2 linked regions of the Homo sapiens genome follow. The protein of the gene in region 1 purifies or fractionates together with the protein of each later gene. This does not show direct contact. Each region holds a gene or a part of one and is shown on either strand. Other genes may lie near its edges.

Region 1 (11,237 bases):
TCAAGCTACCGCACACCAGCCTGGGTGACAGAGTGAGACCCCATCTCAAAAAAAAAAAAAGGAAAAAAGAAACACCCCCATTGGCCTTACTTTGACCCTGTCTCCCAACCCTTCTCCACAAGGCAACCAGAGTGAGCTTTTTGTACATAAATACGGTCATGTTACTCTCCAGCTTAAAACCATCCAATGTCTCTTCCCAACGTACCTAGAATAAAACCCACAGTCAGCACCAGAAAGAATCCACGTGGCCCTGGGTGACCCAGCCCCTCCCACCTCTCCAATCCCACCTCCATTCTCTTCCCTGTTCCAGTCACCATGGTCTTCTGTTCTGAAAATTTCTTTTTTTTTTTGAGACAGAGTTTCACTGTGGTTGCCCAGGCTCAAGTGCAATGGCACGATCTCGGCTCACGGCAACCTCCGCCTACCAGAGTTCAAGCAATTCTCCTGCCTCAGCCTCCTGAGTAGCTGGGATTACAGGCATGCGCCACCACGCCCAGCTAATTTTGTATTTTTAGTAGAGATGGGGTTTCTCCATGTTGGCCAGGTTCGTCTCGAACTCTGGGCCTCAGGTGATCTGCCCGCCTTGGCCTCCCAAAGTGCTGGGATTACAGGCGTGAGCCACTGTGCCTGGCCTGTTCTGGGAATTTCTGTAGCCTGAAGCTCTTACACTTACTGTCCCGTCTACCAGGAATGCTCTTTTGTTTTGGTGGGAGACGGGATCTTGCTCTGTCATCCAGGCTGGAGTGTAGTGGTGTGACCATGGCCTACTGTAGCCTGGACCTCTTGTGCTCAAGAGATCCTCCCAAGTAGCTGGAACTACAGGCACATACCCGGCTAATTTTATTCTTTTTTGTAGAGATGAGGTCTCTACAAAAAAGCTCTCTATGTTGCCCAGGCTAGTCTCAAACTCTTGGGCTCAAGCGATCCTCTGGCCTTGGCCTCCCAAAGTGCTGGGATTACAGGCATGAGCCACTGCTCCTGTCCTGGAATGCTCTTCCTTCCGGTCTTTAATGTACTTCAGTGATCAGTTTGAATGTCACCTCCTCACAGAAGCCTTCCAGGACTTCCCAACTCGATTTTCTTGTGTTTTTTTTCCCACTGCTGTGATAAAAGATAACCCAAATCTAAAGTAGTCCTCTCTCTCCCGTTCTGTCCCCTTATTTGTGATCATAGCACATATAGCTATCTGAAATTGTCCTGTTAATATATTTCTTTACCTGTTCACTCTCTGACTCCCTCTACTAGAATGTAAGGTCCACGAGCCAGAGACTTTAGGTTCTGTTCACTGCTGTATCTTCAGCACCTACAACAGTGCCTGGCACATGGCAGACCCTCAGTAAATATTTGTTGAATGAATGGAGTACAGGAAAGCTGCAGCCTACTGTCCTGACACCTGGCAACTAAGAGGGCACATATCAGTGTGGTCCAAGGAACTTTTGAAAAAAATCCAGATTTCTGAGCTTCATCCAAGAACCACTGACTTGATTTCTTTTTCTTTTTCTTTCTTTTTTTTTTTTTTTTTTTTTTTGAGACAGAGTCTTGCTCTGTTGCTAGGCTGGAGTGCAGTGGCGCAATCTCAGCTCACTACAACCTCTGCCTCCCGGGTTCAAGCAATTCTCTTGCCTCAGCCTCTTGAGTAGCTGGGACTACAGGCTTGGGGTTTCACCATGTTGGCCAGGATGGTCTCAATCTTCTGACCTTGTGATCTGCCCGCCTCAGCCTCCAAAAGTGCTGAGATTATAGGTGTGACCCACTGCGCCCGGCTTTTTTTTTTTTTGAGACGGAGTCTCGCTCTGTCACTCAGGCTGGAGTGCAGTGGCACGATCTCGGCTCACTGCAAGCTCTGCCTGCTGGGTTCACGCCATTCTCCTGCCTCAGCCTCCCGAGTAGCTGGGAATACAGGCGCCCACTACCATGCCCGGCTAATTTTTTGTATTTTTAGTGGAGATGGGGTTTCACCATGTTAGCCAGGATGGTCAGCCAGGATGGTCTCCATATCCTGACCTTGTGATCTGCCCGCCTCGGCCTCCCAAAGTGCTGGGATTACAGGTGTGAGCTACTGCGCCCGGCCTACTGACTTGATTTCTGAGAATCTGAATTTTACACAAGCACCTCACTCTTAGTATAAGAGGCAGCATCCGAAGAACTATGGGATCAACCCTGGTGCACAGACATGAGGGAAGTATTCAGAGGAAAGTGCATAGCATGTTCCAATGCTGGGACACGGCTCATTCAAGAGGAATGGTCCCACGTGGGACAGGGAGAGGTCCTTGGGCATTTCCCACAGCCAGGCTGAAACTGCCTGTTGCTCCAGTTCTATTCTGGTTATCAAGAGGATATTGACTCCCTTTTTTCTTTTTTTTTTTTTTTTTGAGATGGAGTCTTGCTCTATTGCCCAGGCTGGAGTGCAGGGGTGTGATCTCAGCTCACTGCAATATCCTCCTCCCAGGTTCAAGTGATTATTCTACTTCAGCCTCCCGAGTAGCTGAAATTACAGAGGCCATGGCTAATTTTGTATTTTTATTTATTTAATTTTTATTTTTATCTATTTATTTTTTTTCAGACACAGTCTCATTCTGTCGCCCAGGCTGGAGTGCAGTGGTGCGATCTTGGCTCACTGCAACCTCTGCCTCCCAGGTTAAAGCGATTCTCCTGCCTCAGCCTCCCAGGTTAAAGCGATTCTCCTGCCTCAGCCTCCCAAGTAGCTGGGACTATAGGTACACGCCACCACACCCAGCTAATTTTTGTATTTTTAGTAGAGACGGGGTTTCTTTTTTTTTTTTTTTTTTTTGAGACAGAGTCTTGCTCTGTTGCCCAGGCTGGAGTGCAGTGGTGTGATCTTGGCTCACTGCAACATCCGCCTCCTGGGTTCATGCCATTCTCCTGCCTCAGCCTCCTGAGTAGCTGGGATTAAAGGAGCCTGCCACCATGCCTGGCTAATTTTTTTGTATTTTTAGTAGAGACGTGGTTTCACCATGTTAGCCAGGATGGTCTCGATCTCCTGACCTCGTGATCCTCCCGCCTCGGCCTCCCAAAGTGCTGGGATTACAGGCCTGAGCCACTGCGCCTGGCAGAGACGGGGTTTCACCATGTTGGCCAGGATGATCTTGATCTCTTGGCTTGGTGATCCGCCCACCTCGGCCTCCCAAAGTCTTGGGATTACAGGCGTAAGCCACTGTGCCCGGCCTATTTTTATTTTTTTTGAGACAGAGTCTCGTTTTGTTGCCCAGGCTGGAGTGCAGTGGTGCAATCTCAGTTCACTGCAACCTCTGCCTCCTGGGCTCAGGCGATTCTCCTGCCTCAGCCTCCCGAGTAGCTGGGATTACAGGCACCCGCCACCATGCCCGGCTAATTTTTGTATTTTTAGTAGAGACGGGGCTTCACCATGTTGGCTAGGCTGGTCTCGAACTCCTGACCTCAGGTGATCCTCCCACCTCAGCCTCCCGAAGTGCTGGGTTTACAGGCGTCAGCCACTGCGCCCGGTCGAGTTTGACTCTTGATTCCATTTCCTGAGCATCACCATGTGCAGCAGGAAACATTCTGGAAAGGTGTTTTCCCTGCCGTAGATTCCATGTAGCCCAAGATTAGGGGCGAATGCACTTAGGAGGTAAATAGATGCGGCTTCAGGTCTGAGTTCCACCACCACTGACCCGCTGTGTAACCTTTGCAGGTCATTGATCCTCTCTGACTCTCAGTTTGCCCGTCTGTAAAACAGATCTCCTGAGTAGATGTTTACTCAGCTCAGTGTCTGGCACATAGCAAATGCTCACTAAGTGGGAGCTATGTTAAATCTTTTTTTTTTTTTTTTTGAGACAGGGTCTCACTCTGTTGCTCAGACTGGAGTGCAGTGGCACCATCTCGGCTCACCTCAACCTCCGCCTCCCAAGCTCAAGTGATTCTCCTGCTTCAGCTTCCTGAGTAGCTGAGATTAAGGCGAACGCCACTACCACCCAGCTCATTTTTGTATTTTTTAATAGAGTCAGGGTTTCACCATGTTGGCCAGGCTGGTCTCGAACTCATGACCTCAAATGATCCACCCACCTCGGAAGTACTGGGATTACAGGTGTAAGCCACTGCATCTGGCTTAGCTATGGCGAATCTTAAGGTATGGGGAATTATCTTTCCCTTTCCCCAGTCCTACTTCATCTCATCAAATTAAACCCAACAGCCTCTGAGTAATATTGGGAAGAAAACTGCTATTTCCCTGCCCACCATACTGAGCTCACATGAACCACTGCCCCCAGAGGAAGAACCATGACTTTGCTCTCTGGAAGCTACATGCCTGACTGCCTCTTCCTTTGGTTTTTTCCTGCTGGGCCAGAGGTATTCTCCCCTGTGCTCCTGCCCCTTGCCCTCTGCCCCTGCTCCCTTCCAAGCTCCTCAAGGTCCTGTCCCTGAGAAAGAAGGCCTGGGTTATTCCTTTTTTTTTTTTTTTTTTTTGAGTCTCGCTCTGTTGCCCAGGCTAGAGTGCAGTGGCACAATCTCGGCTCACTGCAACCTCCACCTCCCGGGCTCAAGCGATTCTCCTGCCTCAGCCTCCCGAATAGGTGGGATTACAGGCATCTGCCATCACGCCCGGCTAATTTTTGGATTTTTAGTAGAGACGAGGTTTTGCCATGTTGGCCAGGCTGGTCTCGAACTCCTGACCTCAGGTGATCTGCCCGCCTCAGCCTCCCAAAGTGCTGGGATTACAGGAGTAAGCCACCGTGCCTGGTCATCGCTATTATCATTTTTGTTTTCTTTCTTTCTCTCTCTTTTTTTTTTTTTTTGAGATAGGGTCACGCTCTGTTACCCAGGCTGGAGTGCAGTAGCGTGATAATAGTGATAATAGTTTACTGCAGCCTTGAACTCCTGGGCTTAAGTAATCCTCCAGTCTCATCCTCCTGAGTAGCTGGGACCACAGGTGCAGGCCACCACGCCCAGCTAATTTCACTTGATCTCAGCTAAAAGGCCGACAAATGATACCAGCTAATTAAAAAAAAAAAAATTGGCCAGGCGCAGTGGCTCATGCCTGTAATCCCAGCACTTTGGGAGGCTGAGGCAGGTTGGTCACGAGGAGTTCAAGACCAGCCTGTCCAACATGGTGAAACCCCATCTCTACCAAAAATACAAAAATTAGCCAGGCATGGTGGCGCATGCCTGTAATCCCAGCTACTCAGTAGGCTGAGGCAGGAGAACTGCTTGAACCTGGGAGGCAGAGGTTGCAGTGATCCGAGATTGCACCACTGCACTCCAGCCTAGGCGACAGAGTGAGACTTTGTCTCAAAACAAAAAACAAAACGATGTTTTTTCATTGACATGGGGTCTCACTTTGTTGCCCAGGCTAGTCTCAAACTCCTGGCTTCAAATGAATCTCTTGCCTCAGCCTCCTGTAATCACTGTTGAGATTACAGGTGTGAGCCATTGCACCCAGCCTGGTCAAACATCACAGGGAGGCAGTGGAGTGTAGAAGCCAGACTTCCTTGGGTTCCTGACTTCACTATTTACCCTCTGTGAGACCTTGGGCAAGTTACCTTACCTCTCAGTAGCTATTTCTCCATCTGTAAAATAGTATCTACCTTGCAGGGTCACTGTGATGATTCGATGAATTAATATATGCCAAGTGCCTAGGCTACTGCCTGGCAGATATCATTATAATACACTGGCATTGAGTTTTCCCATGGGCTGCAGCACCACAACCGGGAGAGTAGAGGCCCTCCCTGCCCTGGGCAGCTGGTCAGCCTCTTCTTGCCCCCGACTACTTCCTTGAGTTATTATTTGGCGGGACCGGGGGGCAGCAAGGTGACACTTACAGCTTTTTTATGATTGTCTTCTCCTCCTTGTTCCTGCCAGCATTTTTGGCACTAGTAACCACAGCATCTTTTTCTCTTCTTCCTCCTGGGCCTTCTCTTGGTGGAATCAGGCCACTGGGAAACGGGACAAAAAATAAATGGATTATTTTATTACAGATCGTTTTTTTTTTTTTTTTGAGTTGGAGTCTTTCTCTGTTGCCCAGGCTAGAGTGCAGTGGCGCCATCTCAGCTCACTGCAACCTCCGCCTCCCGGGTTCAAGTGATTCTCCTGCCTCTGCCTCCTGAATAGCTAGGACTACAGGCGCCTGCCACCATGCTCGGCTAATTTTTGTATTTTTAGTAGAGATGGGCTTCACCGTGTTGCCCAGGCTGGTCTCAAACTCTTGACCTCAAGTGATCCATCTGCCTCAGACTCCCAAAGTGCTGGGATTACAGGCATGAACCACTGAGCCTGGCTTTTATTACAGACCTCTTATCTGTGCAGCTCTGAAAATAAAGGGTCTTAATGATGATGATGATGATTATGGTAATATTACGGTTGAAAGCACTAGAGTCAGAGAAATTCTGTTTAAAATTAGAATCTTCCCTGTACCTTTCCAATGTGATGCCTCGTTTCTTTTTTTTTTTTGAGACGGATTCTCGCTCTGTTGCCCAGGCTGGAGTGCAGTGGCGCGATCTCGGCTCACTGCAAGCTCCGCCTCCCAGGTTCCCGCCATTCTCTTGCCTCAGCCCCCCGAGTAGCTGGGACTATAGGCGCCCGCCACCACACCCGGCTCATTTTTTGTATTTTTAGTAGAGACAGGGTTTCACTGTGTTAGCCAGGATGGTCTCAATCTCCTGACCCAGTGATCTGCCCGCCTCAGCCTCCCAAAGTGCTGGGATTACAGGTGTGAGCCACCGTGCCTGACCCTCTTGTTTCTTTCTCTTACCTAATTGCATTGGCTACTGCTTCAAGCTTCTCAGTTTTCTAGGAATATGATTGTGTATAAATTCTCTAACTTAAGCCTTGGTTTCCTAACCTATAAAATGAGTCTAATAATAGTACCTACCTCAAAGGATTGAGAGATTATCTAAGATGATACATAGTGCTTAACATTCAACAAATATTTATTAAGCTACCTACTGTGGTTAATAAATATTTTGTCTCTGAACTGTTTTGTCTCTGAACAAAATAGACAAAATATATTCTCTCACGTAATTTATATTCCAGTAGGAGAAGGAAACAGTCAATAAAGAAATAAGTAAAATAAAAGTATAAATTGTAAGTCAGATGTTGATAAGAGTTAGATTTTTTTTTTTTTTTTTTGAGACAGAGTCTTGCTCTGTCGCCCAGACTGGAGTGCAGTGGCACGATCTCGGCTCACCGTAGCCTCTGCCTCCCGGGTTCAAATGATTCTCCTGCCTCAGCCTCCCAAGTAGCTGGGATTACAGGTGTGCACCACCACGCCTGGCTAATTTTGTATTTTTAGCAGAGACAGGGTTTCTCCATGTTGGTCAGGCTGGTCTCAAACTCCCGACCTCAGGTGATCCACCCGCCTTGGCCTCCCAAAGTGTTGGGATTACAGGCATGAGCCACCACACCCAGCCCCTTCCCAATTATGTTACCAAAAAATTTCCTTTTGTGTTTAAGCTAGTTTAAATCGGACTTCTGTCACTTGCAACCATAAGAAGACTGACCAAAATGAAACATTTCAATTACGGCACAGTACAACTCATTACATCCACTTAAGCGTTTTGTTGCAGTGCCCACTGGTAAATTTACCCCCATGGTGTTGTCCCCTTGCTGTGGACTGAATTGTGTGTTTTAATTTTTTTATTTATTTTATTTTTAAAAATTTTCATTTATTTATTTTTTTGAGACAGAGTCTAGCTCTGTCACCCAGGCTGGAGTGGTGGCGCTACCTTGGCTCACTGCAAGCTCCGCCTCCCGGGTTCACGCCATTCTCCTGCCTCAGCCTCTCAAGTAGCTGGGACTACAGGCGTCCGCCACCACGCCCGGCTAATTTTTTGTATTTTTAGTAGAGATAGGATTTCACTGTGTTAGCCAGGATGGTATCAATCTCCTGACCTCGTGATCCGCCCGCCTCTGCCTCCCAAAGTGCTGTACAGGCATAAGCCACTGCGCCCGGCCTTATTATTATTTTTTTTTTGAGATGGAGTTTCACTATTGTTGCCCAGGCTGGAGTGCAATGGTGCAATCTCAACTTGCTGCAACCTCCGTTTCCCAGGTTCAAGCGATTCTCCTGCCTCAGCCTCCCGAGTAGCTGGGATTACAGGTGCCCACCACCACACTTGGCTAATTTTTTTGTATTTTCAGTAGAGACGGGGTTTCACCATGTTGGCCACGCTGGTTTTGAACTCCTGACGTCAAGTGATCTGCCTGCCTCAGCCTCCCAAAATGCTGGGATTACAGGTGTGAGCCATCGTGCCTGGCCGAATTGTGTGTCTTTAATAAAAATTCCTGGCCAGGCTCAGTGGCTCACCATGTATTTCACAGCACCTTGAGCTGACAAAGATACCTCTTTCAGTGTGAGTGTGAAAGGGCAGGATTCATACTTCTCCCTCCTTCTTCATAAAAGAGTTTTGCAAAGAGTGGGCTCTTAATATCTACTTTTTTTTTTTTTTTGAGACAGAGTCTTGCTGTCGCCCAGGCTGGAGTACAGTGGTGCGATCTTGGCTCACTGCAACCTCCACCTCCCTGGTTCAAGCAATTCCCCTGCCCCAGCCTCCAGAGTAGCTGGGATTACAGGTGCACGCCACCATGCCTGGCTAATTTTTTTGTATATTTAGTAGAGATGAGATTTCACCATGTTGGCCAGACTGGTCTCGAACTCCTGACCTCAGGCAATCTGCCTGCCTCGGCCTCCCAAAGTGCTGGGATTACAGGCGTGAGCCACTGTGCTCAGCCATTTCTTAATATTGTTATCAATAATTAAAAAAAATTTTTTTGAGACAGGGTCTTGATCCATTGCCCAGGCTCATCTTGAACTCCTAGGCTCAAGTGTTCCTCCTGTCCCAAACTCCCAAAGTGTTGGGATTACAGGCATGAGCCACCAAACCCGGCCTAAATTTTTGTAATTACAAAATATTATATTATTTATATTCTAATTTTATTTTATTTTTGAGACAGAGTCTCACTCTATCACCCAGGCTGGAGTGCAGTGGCAAAATCTCTGCTCATTGCAACCTCCGCCTCCTGGGTTCAAGTGATTCTTGTGCCTCAGCCTTTTCAGTAGCTGGGATTACAGGTGTGTACCACCACACCCGGCTAATTTTTGTATTTTTAGTATTGACGGAGTTTTGCCATGTTGGCCAGGCTGGTGTTGATTGAACTCCTGACCTCAGGTGATCCACCCACGTTGTCCTCCCAAAGTGTTGGGATTACAGGTGTGAGCCACCTGCCCAGCTGATATTTTATTATAGATACTTATTATAATAATGATTTAACAAGAAGCATCATCTAAAATTTCCATTTTTCCATGATCTATTATTACATAAATTAAACTTGGTGACTAAAAACAGTGGTGACATGATCTCCAATGATGACTCTTTCTTTCTTTCTTTTTTTTCTTTTTTTGAGATGGAGTCTCGCTGTCGCCCAGGCTGGAGTGCAGTGGCGCGATCTCGGCTCACTGCAGGCTCTGCCCCCCGGGGCTCACGCCATCCTCCTGCCTCAGCCTCCCGAGTAGCTGGGACTACAGGTGCCCGCCACCTCGTCTGGCTAATTTTTTTATATTTTTAGTAGAGACGGGGTTTCACTGTGTTAGCCAGGATGGTCTCGATCTCCTGACCTCGTGATCTGCCCACCTCGGCCTCCCAAAGTGCTGGGATTACAGGCGTGAGCCACCGCGGCCAGCCGACTCTTTCTTATAATTGGCTTTCTTTTTTTTTTTTTTTAGATCAGATCTCACTGTGTTGCCCAGGCTGGAGTGCAGTTGCTATTCACGGGTGCAATCACTGCCCACTGAAGCCTCAAATTCCTAGTCTCGTGGGATCCTCCTGCCTCAGCCTCCCAAGTAGCTGAGACTACAGGCACTGAGACTATAGGTGCACACTGCTGTGCCTGGCTTCTTATGGTTGGCTCTGTGGTCCACCTGCTAGCCTGAGCTTCTCACTTGGCTGCGTTCAGTGGGCCATTGGCGGAGGGCTGTGCACAGCTGGGGCTGTCAGCAGGTGCGCCCTGGTTCTCCTTCACATGACCTCTCCATGGGACTTCCCCTTGAGCTTCCTCACAGAATGCTGGTCTCAAGGAAGCATTCTAAGAGCACAGAAACAGAAGAAAGGCCTCTTACCAACTTAACCCCAGAGGCCTAACAGCGTCACTTCCACCCTGTTCTCACAGTCAAAGCAAGTCACAGAGCCAGCCTACATGCAAAGAGAGGGAAAACAGAATCCACCTCTTGATGAAAGGAGTGGCAAAGTTTCATTGCAAAAGGTATGCAGGGTGGGAAATACTGCTGTGGCTCTCTTTGGAAGCAACCTACCATATTTCCCTGGAATTATACTTTTTTTTTTTTGAGATACAGTCTCGCTCTGTCACCCAGGCTGGAGTGCAGTGACACATCTCAGCTCACTGCAACCTGCGCCTCCTGGGTACAAGCAATTCTCCTGCCTCAGCCTCCTGAACAGCTGGGACTACAGGTATGAGTCACCACGCCTGGCTAATAATTTTTATATTTTTAATAGAGACGGAGTTTCACCATGTTGCCCAGGCTGATCTCAAACTCCTGACCTCAGGCAATCTGCCTGCCTCGGCCTCCCAAAGTGCTGGGATTACAGGTGTGAGCCACCTCAACCAGCTGTAATCAATTTATTATCAGTATATTATCTGTGTGAGTTTGGACCTTCAAATGGATGCAGTTGCTATGAGAACATCTCAGCTGGCATGCTGGCTTCTCCACAATATATAACACTAGAGACGAAGCAGAATCCTGCCTCTCTTGGCCTGAGCCAGATGGAAAGTGTGCGTCTCTTGTTCTCTGAGAATTCAAAACTAGAAAGAAAGTGTGTGGTTTTGCCCACTAACAAGCTGCTCACGACACCAGCAGCTTGGCAGTTTCTCTTTTTAACTACCTGTGCCTGAACTACTTATTTTATTCTATTTTTTTTCTGAGATGGAGTCTCGCTCTTCCGCCCAGGCTGGAGTGCAGTGGCGAGATGTCGGCTCGCTGCAAGCTCCACCTCCCAGGTTCACACCATTCTCCTGCCTCAGCCTCCCAAGTAGCTGGGACTACAGGCGCCCGCCACCACGCCTGGCTAATTTTTTGTATTTTTATTAGAGACGGGGTTTCACCGTGTTAGCCAGGCTGGTCTCGATCTCCTGACCTTGTGATCCACCCACCTCGGCCTCCCAAAGTGCTGGGATTACAGGCGTGAGCCACCGCGCCCGGCCCTGAATTACTTACTAAATGAGACAAAGGTCTTTCCATGAACACGGTTCCAACC
Region 2 (11,237 bases), on another chromosome or scaffold:
ATGAGTTCAAGACCTGCCTGGACAAAACAGTGAGACACCCCCAATCTCTACCAAAAAATCTGAAAATTAGTGAGGGATGGTGATGTGTCCTCGTGGTCCTAGCTACTCAGAAAGCTGAAGCAGGAGGATGGCTTGAGCCCAGGAGTTCAAATCTAGCCTGGGCAACATAGTCAGACCCCATCAATTAAAAAAAAAAAAGAGAGAGACCAAGCCAGGCTTGATGGCATACCCCTGTGGTCCCAGCTACTAGTGTATCACTGGAGGCCAGGAATTTGAGGCTATGGCCAGCATGATCACACTTGCCAACAGCCACTACACTTCAGCCTGGGAAACACAGTGAGACCCTGTCACAAAAAGAAAAAAAAAAGGAAAGAAAGAAACACATTTTTTCCTAGTTGTATTCTTCTATTCTTTTGCTCTTCAAAAGAACAATAAATAATATAGATTTATTTTCTCAAGAAATTCTAATGGGTTTCACCTTAACTCAATTGTGAAAGACTATTCTTTCAAAAAAAATCTTAAAATTGTTTTTATAATTCAAAAAAGAAAGCTGTTGAAATTTCAAAACTAAACTGCCTATAGTCGGTAAATGAATCTGCCCTATGATCCGTCCCCCTTACCACCATCACTCTCTTGGAGTGCTATTTAGACTTTGGTATCTACCCTTCCAGTTCTCTAGTTGCTAAAAATAACAAAATGTATCTGCGTGTACATATGTATGTTTGGTATCATATAATCTTGAAAAATGAGATCACTTCACATATTATATCCTAATTTGCTTTTTATCACTCAATACACTATGGAGATCTTTTATACTTATTTTAATTGCTGTCAGCCTCTCTCATTCTCTGAAATAAAATTCAATTTTTGATCTGACTGGATTCTCATAGAAAAACATCTCCTAAAGCAGGAAATCCCAAAATATGATATGCAAGGAAGCTGGCAGACTCAAAAGGGCACCAATTTTTTAGTCCCATTGAAGAGCAATAACTGATGACTGTTTTTTCCAGTTTGAATATTCAATTGTAGTAAACAGATACCTACATTTCACTCTAAAAATTAGGTCCCTTAGTTTTAATGCCTCTATATAATTTACTTCAATGTAAATATCTCAACTCAATCTCTTATAATTGCTCAGAAATTTCACTAGATTTATATGTGACATACCACCTCTACTACAGCTAATGTCTCTGTCCTTCCAAAGTGGAGAAAGAAAACTGGTTGGTTAAGAAAATTTAAAAACAAACATCTACCTTTTATGTATAGGTTGGTTTTAGAAAAATATATTAATATTTCAAATATAAAAATAGAAAGGTTACCAAATGTAATTACATTTTCTCCTATACAACATCTGCTTCTCTTTTAGGATGTGTGTCAGATTTTTTTTTTTTTTTTTTTTTTTTTTTTTGAGATGGAGTCTTGGTCTGTCCCCAAGCTGGCATGCAGTGGCGTGATCTCGGCTCACTGCAACCTCTGACTCCCTGGTTCAAGGGATTCTTCTGCCTCAGCCTCCCAAGAAGCTGGGATTACAGGCACGTGCCACCACACCCAGCTAATTTTTGTATTTTTAGTACAGATGGGGTTTCACCGTGTTGGCCAGGATGGTCTCATCTCCTGACCTCGTGATCCACCCGCCTCAGCCTCCCAAAGTGCTGGGATTATAGACGTGAGCCACCGCGCCTGGCCAATGTATGTCAGATTTTATCTGTATTTATTTGCATTTAAAATTTCAACAGATTGAACAGAGAATTCAGGACTCATAACCAAATCCATGCATTATACCTATTCACTCGAGGGAAAATACGAAAATCCGATTTCCTAATTTGACTACATGTTACTTACACTAGCAAATATTGAGAGTCACAAATCTTAAACCCAGAAACAAACCTGAGGTAAAATATAAATTCCCCAAGATCACATTTTCAGCATTATTTATTTTCTTACATAATAGGTTTTATTCAGTACGTACAGAATATGTACACGCCCTTTATTTGCCTGAGAAGTGACTAATATGGCAGAATAGCAATTCTGTGGCAATAACTACTTAATAGATTCATTTCTTAAAATTTCCTAAATTATCTTTGAGAATGCAAAGTACTCATTAAGCGAAATGAGTCCAAGAGTAAAAAGGCTAGAAAAGACAAAAAGCTGGAAAAAATAATTGAACTAGGGACTAGACAGTGACTGTGGAGCTCAGAATATTAATGGTTACCACTGACTAGATCCTTCAGATTTCTAGATGGCTTTCTGTTTCCCCAGTTCCTTATAGCACAAGTCCCCAACCCCGGGGCTGTGGACTCTTACCGGTCCGTGGCCTGTTAAGAACGGGGCCACCCAGCAGGAGGTGAGCAGCAAGTGAGTGAGCATTATTACCTGAGCTCCGCCTCCCATCAGATCAGTGATAGCATTAGATTCTCATAGGAGTGCAAACCCCACTGTGAACTGCACATGCAAGGGATCTAGGTTGCGTGCTCCTTAGGAGGATCTAACGCCTGATGATCTGAGGTGGGGTAGTTTCTGGGTGAAACTACCCCCCAGTACGGTCCATGGAAAAATTATCTTCCATGAAACCAGTCCTTGGTGCCAAAAAGGCTGGGGACTGCTGCCCTACAGAAACAATACCACCCAAACTCAAATTCTGTATGTAAATCCAGTACTTCAGAATAGACAAAATATTCAACAGAGATACTCAGGTACCTGGCAGGATATAAAAACAGGAACTTACCTTTCGAAGGATATCTTCAGCTAACGTGAGGAACGCCTTTTCGATGTTTATATTTGCTTTTGCACTAGTCTCAAAAAACCTAATACCATGCTCCCTTGCAATCTAAAACAGAAACAAAATATCATCATAAAATTATCAAGCATGGGTTGCCAACTGCTGACTTTAACAGCTTAAATATTAATCTTATTCTGAAGGCAGTGGTCCCAACTAGAATATATAACACAGAATATTTCAGCAAGTCAAGCTCTTTCATAAAACAAACAAAAGAAAAGTAATCTCCTTACCCCAAAAGTTTATTTCAGATATTCTAAGTCAGATACTTCACACTGGGGGCAAACTTATGAGAAGCTCAACCTGACTCCTCAGGGTCTAATTTCTGCTCACCATAGGCTCCTGATTGTCACATTTTAGAACCATACTAATTGATACATTTCCTTAAAGTCCTAAGTTTAAAAACCGAGGATTAATGACTTATATTTTTCTCTCTTTGTAGTTTAAATAAGGCTAAAAATACTATGGGCACATTTGATTCTCCCATACATGTTAAATATGCACTGAAAAAAAATTCACTCAAATGATAAAATATTATTTCCAACAAGCATTTTAAAAACTATGTAATTAGCTTAGTGTGTTCGATCACTATTACTATAAAAATAATCAAAAGTAGCATTACCTTTACAAAGACAGAGCAGAGTATCAGTTTAATTCAGATTTTTACCTGTTCTCCTTTTCCTTTAGGTACAACTCTTTTGTCGTCCATATCACACTTGTTTCCTAGTAACATTCTTTCCACATCTTCATTGGCATGCTAAAATGAAATAAAATTTTACTTTTACATACTACCATGAATTACGGCTTAACAGTCTTTAAAAGTGACTTTATTCTCTCAATTTAGAGGGTCATTTCTATAGCTTTGAAGTTTTAAAGCAGTCACCCTAAAACTACTCCATACTAAAAGCCTACACAAATTCTTAGATTACCTAGCAAAAGAAACGCAATTCCCAAGACATATCCATGTCAAATACTATTTCCTCCCTAAAGGAGGCTGTCTACTTTCTAGGTATGTTCTTTCTTACCAAAAGAGAAGATACAAGCAAAGAAACTTGCATAATCTAAATCCAGGCTGGATCATTTCAGATTTTATAATGCATACTACCCTATAGAAGCCTTAATTAAACATTTTATAGAGCCTTAAACTCTCAAATAGCTGTGCTGCTATGGCACAAGGAGGTCCATGCAGAAAAATCAGTTAAAAACAAGTGGTTGTCCCCTTAAGATCCCAATGACAATTTTTGCAGAAATAGAAAGATCTATCCAAAAATTCATATGGAATCTAACATCAAAAGAATCTCTCTTTTTGAGACAGAGCCTTGCTCTGTTGCCCAGGCTGGAGTGCAGTGGTGTGATCTGGGCTTCCTGCAACTTTCGCCTCCCGAGTTCAAGCGATTCTCCTGCCTTAGCCTCTTGAGTAGCTGTGAGTAGCTGGGACTACAGGTGTGTGTACTACCATGCCAGCTAATTTTTGTAGTTTTCTGGTAGAGATGGGGGGTTTTGCCATGTTGGCCAGGCTGATCGCGAACTCCTGGCCTCAAGTGATCCACCCCCATCGGCCTCCCAAAGAGCTAGGATTACAGGCATGAGCCACTGAGCCCAGCCAAAATAATATTAGCTGGGGGAGTCAAATTTCAGAACTTACTGCAAATCAAAAAGTGTGGAACTGGCATAAAGACAGATACACAGACTAATGGAATGGAATAGAGAGCCCAGAAATAAATCCTCACATACTTAGTCAAATGACCCTCGACAAGGATGCCAAAATCAGTCAATAGGGAAAGGACAGTCTTTTCAATAAATAGCACTAGGAAAACCAGATATCCACATGCAAAACAATGAAGCTGGATCCTTATTTTAAACCATATAAAAAAATTAACTTGAACTAGATCAAAGACCTCAAACTATAAAACTCTTAGAAGAAAACATAGGGAAAAGCTTCAGGACACTGGATTTGGCAATGGTTTCTTTGACATGATACCAAAAGCACAGGCAATAAAAGAAAAAGTAGTTAAACTGTACTTCATCAAAGTTAAAAACTACTGTGCAACAAAGGACGCTATCAAGAGAATGAAAAGACTACCCACAAAAAGGAGGAAATATTTGTAAATCATGTATTTGAAAGGGAATAATACCTAGAATATATAAAAAACACCTAAAACTCCTAACAACAACAAAAAATGACAGCACTTTGGGAGGCTGTCAGGAAAATTGCCTGAGCCCAGGAGTTCGAGACTAGCCTGAGTAACACTGTGAGACCTCATCTCTACAAAAAATTTAAAAATTAGCCAGGCACGGTGGTGTGTGCCTGTAGTCCCAGCTACTTAGGAGGCTGTGGTAGGAGAATCACTTGAGCCTGGGAAGTTGAGGCTGCAGTGAGCCATGATCATCATGCCTCTGTACTCCAGCCTGGGGAACAGAGCAAGAACCTGTCTGGAAAAAATTTAAAAAAAAAAAAAAAAAAAAGCAAGCAAAGGATTTGAATAGACATTTCTTCAAAGAAGATATACAAACAAACAATATGCACATGAATAGATGCTCAATATCACTAAGATTAGGAAATGCAAATCAAAAACCACAATGAGAGATACCACTACATACCCATTAGTATGGCTACTATTAAAAAAACAGAAAACACATATTGGCGAGGATGTGGAGAAACCGACACCTTTGTGTACTGTTGGTAGGAATGTAAAATGGTGCAATCACTGTGGAAAAGTCTGGTGATTCCTCAAAAGGTTACACACAGAATTATCATATGATCCAGCAATTCCACTCATGGGTATACACGCAGAAGAATTTAAAGCAGGGACTCAGATATTTGTACACCAGTGTTCACAGCAACATTATTCACAATAGTAAAAGGGTGAAAACAACCCACATATCCAACAATGGGTGAATGAATAAACAGAACATGGCATATAAAAACAATGGAATATTATTCAGCCTCAAAAAATAAACAAGTTCTGACACATGCTACAATGTAGATGAACCTTGAAAACTTTATGTTAAATGAAGTAAATTACTTACAAATTGAACAAATACTATATGATTCCACTTATATGAGGTACCTATAACAGTCAAATTCATAGAAAATAGAATGGTGACAGTTGCCAGGAGATGGGGAAAGGGGGAGACAGAAATCATTGTTTAATGGATGCAAAGCTTGAGTTCAGAAAGATGAAAAAGTTCTGGAAATGGATGGTGGTGACGGTTGCACAACAGTAGAATGTACTTAACACCACTGAACTATACACCAAAATAATAGTTAAAATGAAAATTTCATGTTGTATGTATTTCACCACAATTTTAAAAAGTATTCAAAAACAACAATAGGCTGAGCACGGGGGCTCATGCCTGTAATCCCAACACTTTAAGAAGCTGAGGCAGGAGGAGCACTTGAGCCCAAGAGCTCAAGGCTGGAGTGAACTATTATCACTGCCACTGCACTCCAGCCAGGGCAACAAAGCAAGAACCTGTCTCAAAAAAAAAAAAAAAAAAAAAAAAAAAAGCAACAACAACAATAAGAAAAACAACAGCAACAAAACTGCCAAATGGCTGCGGTTACTTCATTTCCTGTAGCTATAAGAAAAAAAAAAACTAGGAAAGTTATAAAATATGCTGATTTAAAACAACATACAGTTGACCCTTGAACAATGGGGGTAAGGGTATACCATGTATAACTTTTACTCCCCAAACACTTAATTAGTAACAGCCTGATGCTAACCAGAAGTATTATCAGTAACAGTCGATTAACATATTTTATATATGTATTCTATACTGTATTCTTACCATAAAGTTAGAGAAAAGAAAATGTTATTAAGAAAATCATAAGGAAGAAAAATATATTTACTATTCATTAAGTGGAAGTGGATCATCATAAAGGTCTTCATCCTCAATGTCTTCAAATTGAGTAGGCTGAGGAGGAGAAAGAGGAGGGGGTTGGTCTTGCTGTCTCAGGGAAGGCAGAGGCAGAAGAGGTAGAGAAGGTGGAAGGGGAGGCAGGCACACTCAGTTTAACTTTACGGAAAAACATTGTAATTTCTTTTTTGCTTTTTCATTTCTTTAAAAATATTTCTATACAAAACCAATCCTTCTTTCATCATTTGCTTCAGTTTCAGTGCCTGTATCACACAATGGTCCATGTTGTACAGTAAGTCTAAAGCAGTCTTGAATAATCAGAACCCTTCTGCCAGATTGTCTACAGTCAATTTGTTTTCTGGCACTACTTCTTTGCCTTCTTCCTTATCGTCCAACGCTGGTTTGGAAGCACCGGCATCTTCATTAAATCATCTTCTGTTGATTCCTCTGGTTGATGTCTATTAGCTCTTGTCTTATCCACAGTCTCTTTCATAAATTCCTTGACTGGCTCTGCTACAAATCCTGTGAAATCATGCTCAACATCGGTACACAGTTTTCTCCAGCAGGAAGTTACTGTTTTGTGCTTGATGGCTTTCATGGCTTTTTCTATAACGATGGCATCTTCAGCGGTGTAATTCCTCCAGATTTTCATGATGTTCTATTGAGGTTAGAGTACCGTGTGTTATTAACCTTAAAGGTCCTCATGATCCCCTGATCTAGATGCTGAATTAGAGACTGTGTTCGGGGGCAAGTAGACCACTTCAATGTTTTCGGTGTTAAACTCATGGGGTTCTGGGTGGCCAGGGGCACTGTCCAACATCAAAAGAACTTTAAAGGGCTGTCCCATAATGGCAAGGTATTTCCTGATTTCAGGGACAAAGTATTGATGGAACCAATCCAGAAAAAGGATTCTCAGTGTTCAGGTCTTCTTGTTGAATGATCAAAAAACTGGCAGCTTCAAAAGACTTTTCCCTTCAGGTCTTGGGGGTTAGCAACTTTATACGTAAGGGCAGTCAGTCCTGATCATAAACCCAATTGCATTTGCACAGAACAGTAGTTAGCCTATCCCTTCCTGCCTTAATTCCCTGTGCTTTCTTCTTTTCCTAACACTCATGTCCTTTGTGGCCTGCCCCCCTCCCTGCCACCCCGAGAATAGGACACTTTTAACTGCATTAAAGACTTGTTCAGCGGTGCCCAGGAACTTGTCTGCTGTGTCTTAGTCAGCAGAAGCTGCTTCTCCTGTTAGCCTGCCATTTTTAGGCCAAGCCTCTTTCTAAAATTATCAAACCATTCTTTGCTGGCATTAACTCCTCTAGCTTCTCTTCCGTTTTGCTTTAAGTTGTCATATAATAACTTCACTTTTTCTTGAATATCATAGTCTACAAGTATGCCCTTTTTTTTTGTTTTTTTTTTTGAGACAGAGTCGCTCTGTCGCCCAGGCTGGAGTGCAGTGGTGTGATCTCAGCTCACTGCAAGCTCTGCCTCCCGGGTTCACACCATTCTCCTGCCTCAGCCTCCCGAGTGGCTGGGACTACAGGCGCCCGCCACCACGCCTGGCTAATTTTTTGTATTTTCAGTAGAGACGGGGTTTCAACGTGTTAGCCAGGATGGTCTCGATCTCCTGACCTCGTGATCTGCCCGCCTTGGCCTCCCAAAGTGCTGGGATTACAGGCGTGAGCCACCGCGCCCAGCCTACAAGTATGCCTTTCTTATAGCAATCCTGTACCCACATAAGAGCTGCATTTTCAACATGAGATAAAAAGGTATTCTGTAAAAAGTGCAAGGTTTCACACCTCCTGCTGTGGCTGCAGTGATGGCTTCACAAATTTTCTTTTATTTAAAATGGTCCTTATGCTGGATTAATTTATCTTGAAATAACGGGCAACCACAGCTGCAGACCTCATTCTACAGTACATATTAAGCAATTCAATTTTTTCTTGTAATGTCATGACTTTTCTGTTTCTCAGGATTGCTTCTGGCATCACTAGTGGCACTTTGTATAGGTCTGATGGTGTTATTCAAGGTTTATGGTATTGCACTAGACACGATGAAAACACGCAAGAACCACAAAAGACCTCTTTTGATTGCAATATGGGATTTACTGGAGACACAAACTGTTCACGGGGAGATGATCCACATCACATGGTGTTTTAAGCAGACACTTGGAAACATACGAGCTCACCAAAATAGCAACAGGAGGTGGCTACAAAATTATCACAGTAGTACAGTATGTATTAGTTATTTTTATGCAATTATGATTTAATACTGCATCTCTGTTACATTTCTCTTGATGCAAAAGGTGCCTTGTATGGGCTCTGTGTGTTTGAGTGTTAATAAATTTAAACTTTTAATAATAGATCTGTGTATGTTTTATGGTAGTAATAAAATAGACTAGTATCTACATATACTTTAGACATTCATAATATACTTAACTTTTTCTTAATTTCCCCCCCGCCCAATATTTCTAGGTTATGTGGCTTGTCTGTGAGTTTTTCAAGTTGTTGCAAGTCTCTAACATTTTTTCCAAAAGATTTGTTTTTAAAAACCTGTTTATAGAGCTGGGTGTGGTGGCACACACCTGTAATCCCAGCTTCTTGGGAGGCTGAGAAGGAAGAATCACTTGACCCCTGGAGTTTGAGACCAGCCTGGGCAACACTGCGAGTCCCCATCTCTTTAAACAAAAATATCCATGTGTAAGTGAACCTGCAGTTCAAGGGTCAATGACAGTTTAAAAGGGGGTAGACAAAGGTGGGATTAGGGAGGAAACAACTCTTTTGTTGCAAGGACGATACCCTTAGTAGAATCACAAGCTTAACAAAGAAAAATTATACCGCATGTGGTGGCTCACGCCTGTAAAGCCAGCACTTTGGGAGGCTGAGGTGGGTGGATCACATGAGGTCAGGGGTTCGAGACCAGCCTGGCCAATATGGCAAAACCCTGTCTCTACTAAAATTACTAAAATTAGCCGGGTGTGGCGATGCACGTCTGTAATCTCAGCTACTTGGGAGGCTGAGGCAGGACAATCACTTGAACCCAGGAGGTGGAGGTTGCAGTGAGCTGAGATGATACCACTGCACTCCAGCCTGGGTGACAGAGCAAGACTTTGTCTCGGGAAAAAAAAAATTATAATATACTATAAAGAAACTCGCTGGCTGGATGCGGTGGCTCATGCCTATAATCCCAGCATTTTGGGAGGCCGAGGCGGGCGGATCACGAGGTCAGGAGATTGAGACCATCCTGGCTAACACAGTGAAACCTCGTGTCTACTAAAAATACAAAAAATTAGCTGGGTGTGTTGATGGACGCCCTGTAGTCCCAGCTACTCAGGAGGCTGAGGCAGGAGAATGGTGTGAACCCGGGAGGTAGAGCTTGCAGTGAGCCAAGATAGCACCACTGCACTCCAGCCTGGGCAACAGAGCGAGACTCCGTCTCAAGAAAAAAAAAAAAGAAACTCCCTATTTAGGGATTCCATGGTCTTATCTGAATTTAGTGCCTCTTAATTTATGTTACTGCTAAAACAAAGGCAACTTGGCAAATATCCAGTAATAAGCAGCAATATACCAGGTGCTCCTAAAATCCTGCCATGTGCTAAAAGTAAGAGGCATTTTGATCTCAGAATCTAAGGATGGACTTCGGGGACATCAATAATTCCAAGGAGCACACATAAAACTTTGCAAGTTGTATAAGTACATCATTCTGGTAAGATTCTAATTTCTCAAAGGGGTCCATGATCCCAAAGAAGTACAGAAGCATGGTTTTAAAAGCTCCCAGCTGCTAAATGGACAAATTATCACAGTGACCTGTAATAATCTACCCACATCCTAAACACTGCAAGTTACCAGAGCCACTAACATGAACCTCCACTCAAAGAGAAGATAAATTATCTGTAGCTTTAGAAGTCACTGTTCTACTAAGAACACCTGTAAGTTAGGTGCAAGCAGGCTGATGGAACGAAGCCGAAGCCAATAAATAAATGATCAATGAAGTATAAAAAAGGGAAAATTACCTTATATATAAATTTATAAGTGTTAAGATATTTTCAGCCTGTTTTTTAAAAAAGCTTTAGCAATCAGACCACCAATTTACAACCTACTACACCTCCACGCCAACTCACATCAGTATTCTGGGGCTAGTGAGGAAATAGGTATAATTCTTTATACATGTGTACCATTTCAGAGCATAAATATAATTCTAGCTCAAAAATATATTTGAAAGTAAGCCTGCTGGGCACAGTGGCTCATGTGTATAATCCCAACATTCTGGGAAGCCAATGCAGGAAGATTGCTTGAGCCCAAGAATTTGAGGCCAGCCAGGGCAACACAGTAAGACCCCATCACCACAAAAATAAAAATTAGCCAGACATGATATAGCACGCTTGTGGTCCTAGGTACCTGGGAGGCTAGGCTGGGAGGATAGCTTGAGCTCAGGAGGTAGAGGCTGCAGTAAGCTGTGATTGTGCCACTGCACTCTAACCTGACAGAGTGAGACCCTGTCTTTAAAAAGAAAAAAAAAAAAGCAAAGCTAAGACCTGAAAAGACTTGGGATACACTTCTTTGAATAACAAAACACAAAAACTAAGACAAAGGTCAAAATAGTATTA

The links.
Region 2: the proteins of RILPL2 (region 1) and RAB10 purify together in Homo sapiens (co-immunoprecipitation; 2 studies listed by IntAct). This does not show direct contact.

The regions. Positions count from the first base shown.
Region 1 is NC_000012.12:123,417,252-123,428,488, forward strand, and holds part of RILPL2 (RILP-like protein 2), read right to left. Parts: intron 5,907-11,237; coding exon 5,793-5,906; intron 1-5,792. UniProt on the Homo sapiens protein: Involved in cell shape and neuronal morphogenesis, positively regulating the establishment and maintenance of dendritic spines. Plays a role in cellular protein transport, including protein transport away from primary cilia.
Region 2 is NC_000002.12:26,119,440-26,130,676, reverse strand, and holds part of RAB10 (ras-related protein Rab-10), read right to left. Parts: intron 3,534-11,237; coding exon 3,444-3,533; intron 2,828-3,443; coding exon 2,726-2,827; intron 1-2,725. UniProt on the Homo sapiens protein: The small GTPases Rab are key regulators of intracellular membrane trafficking, from the formation of transport vesicles to their fusion with membranes.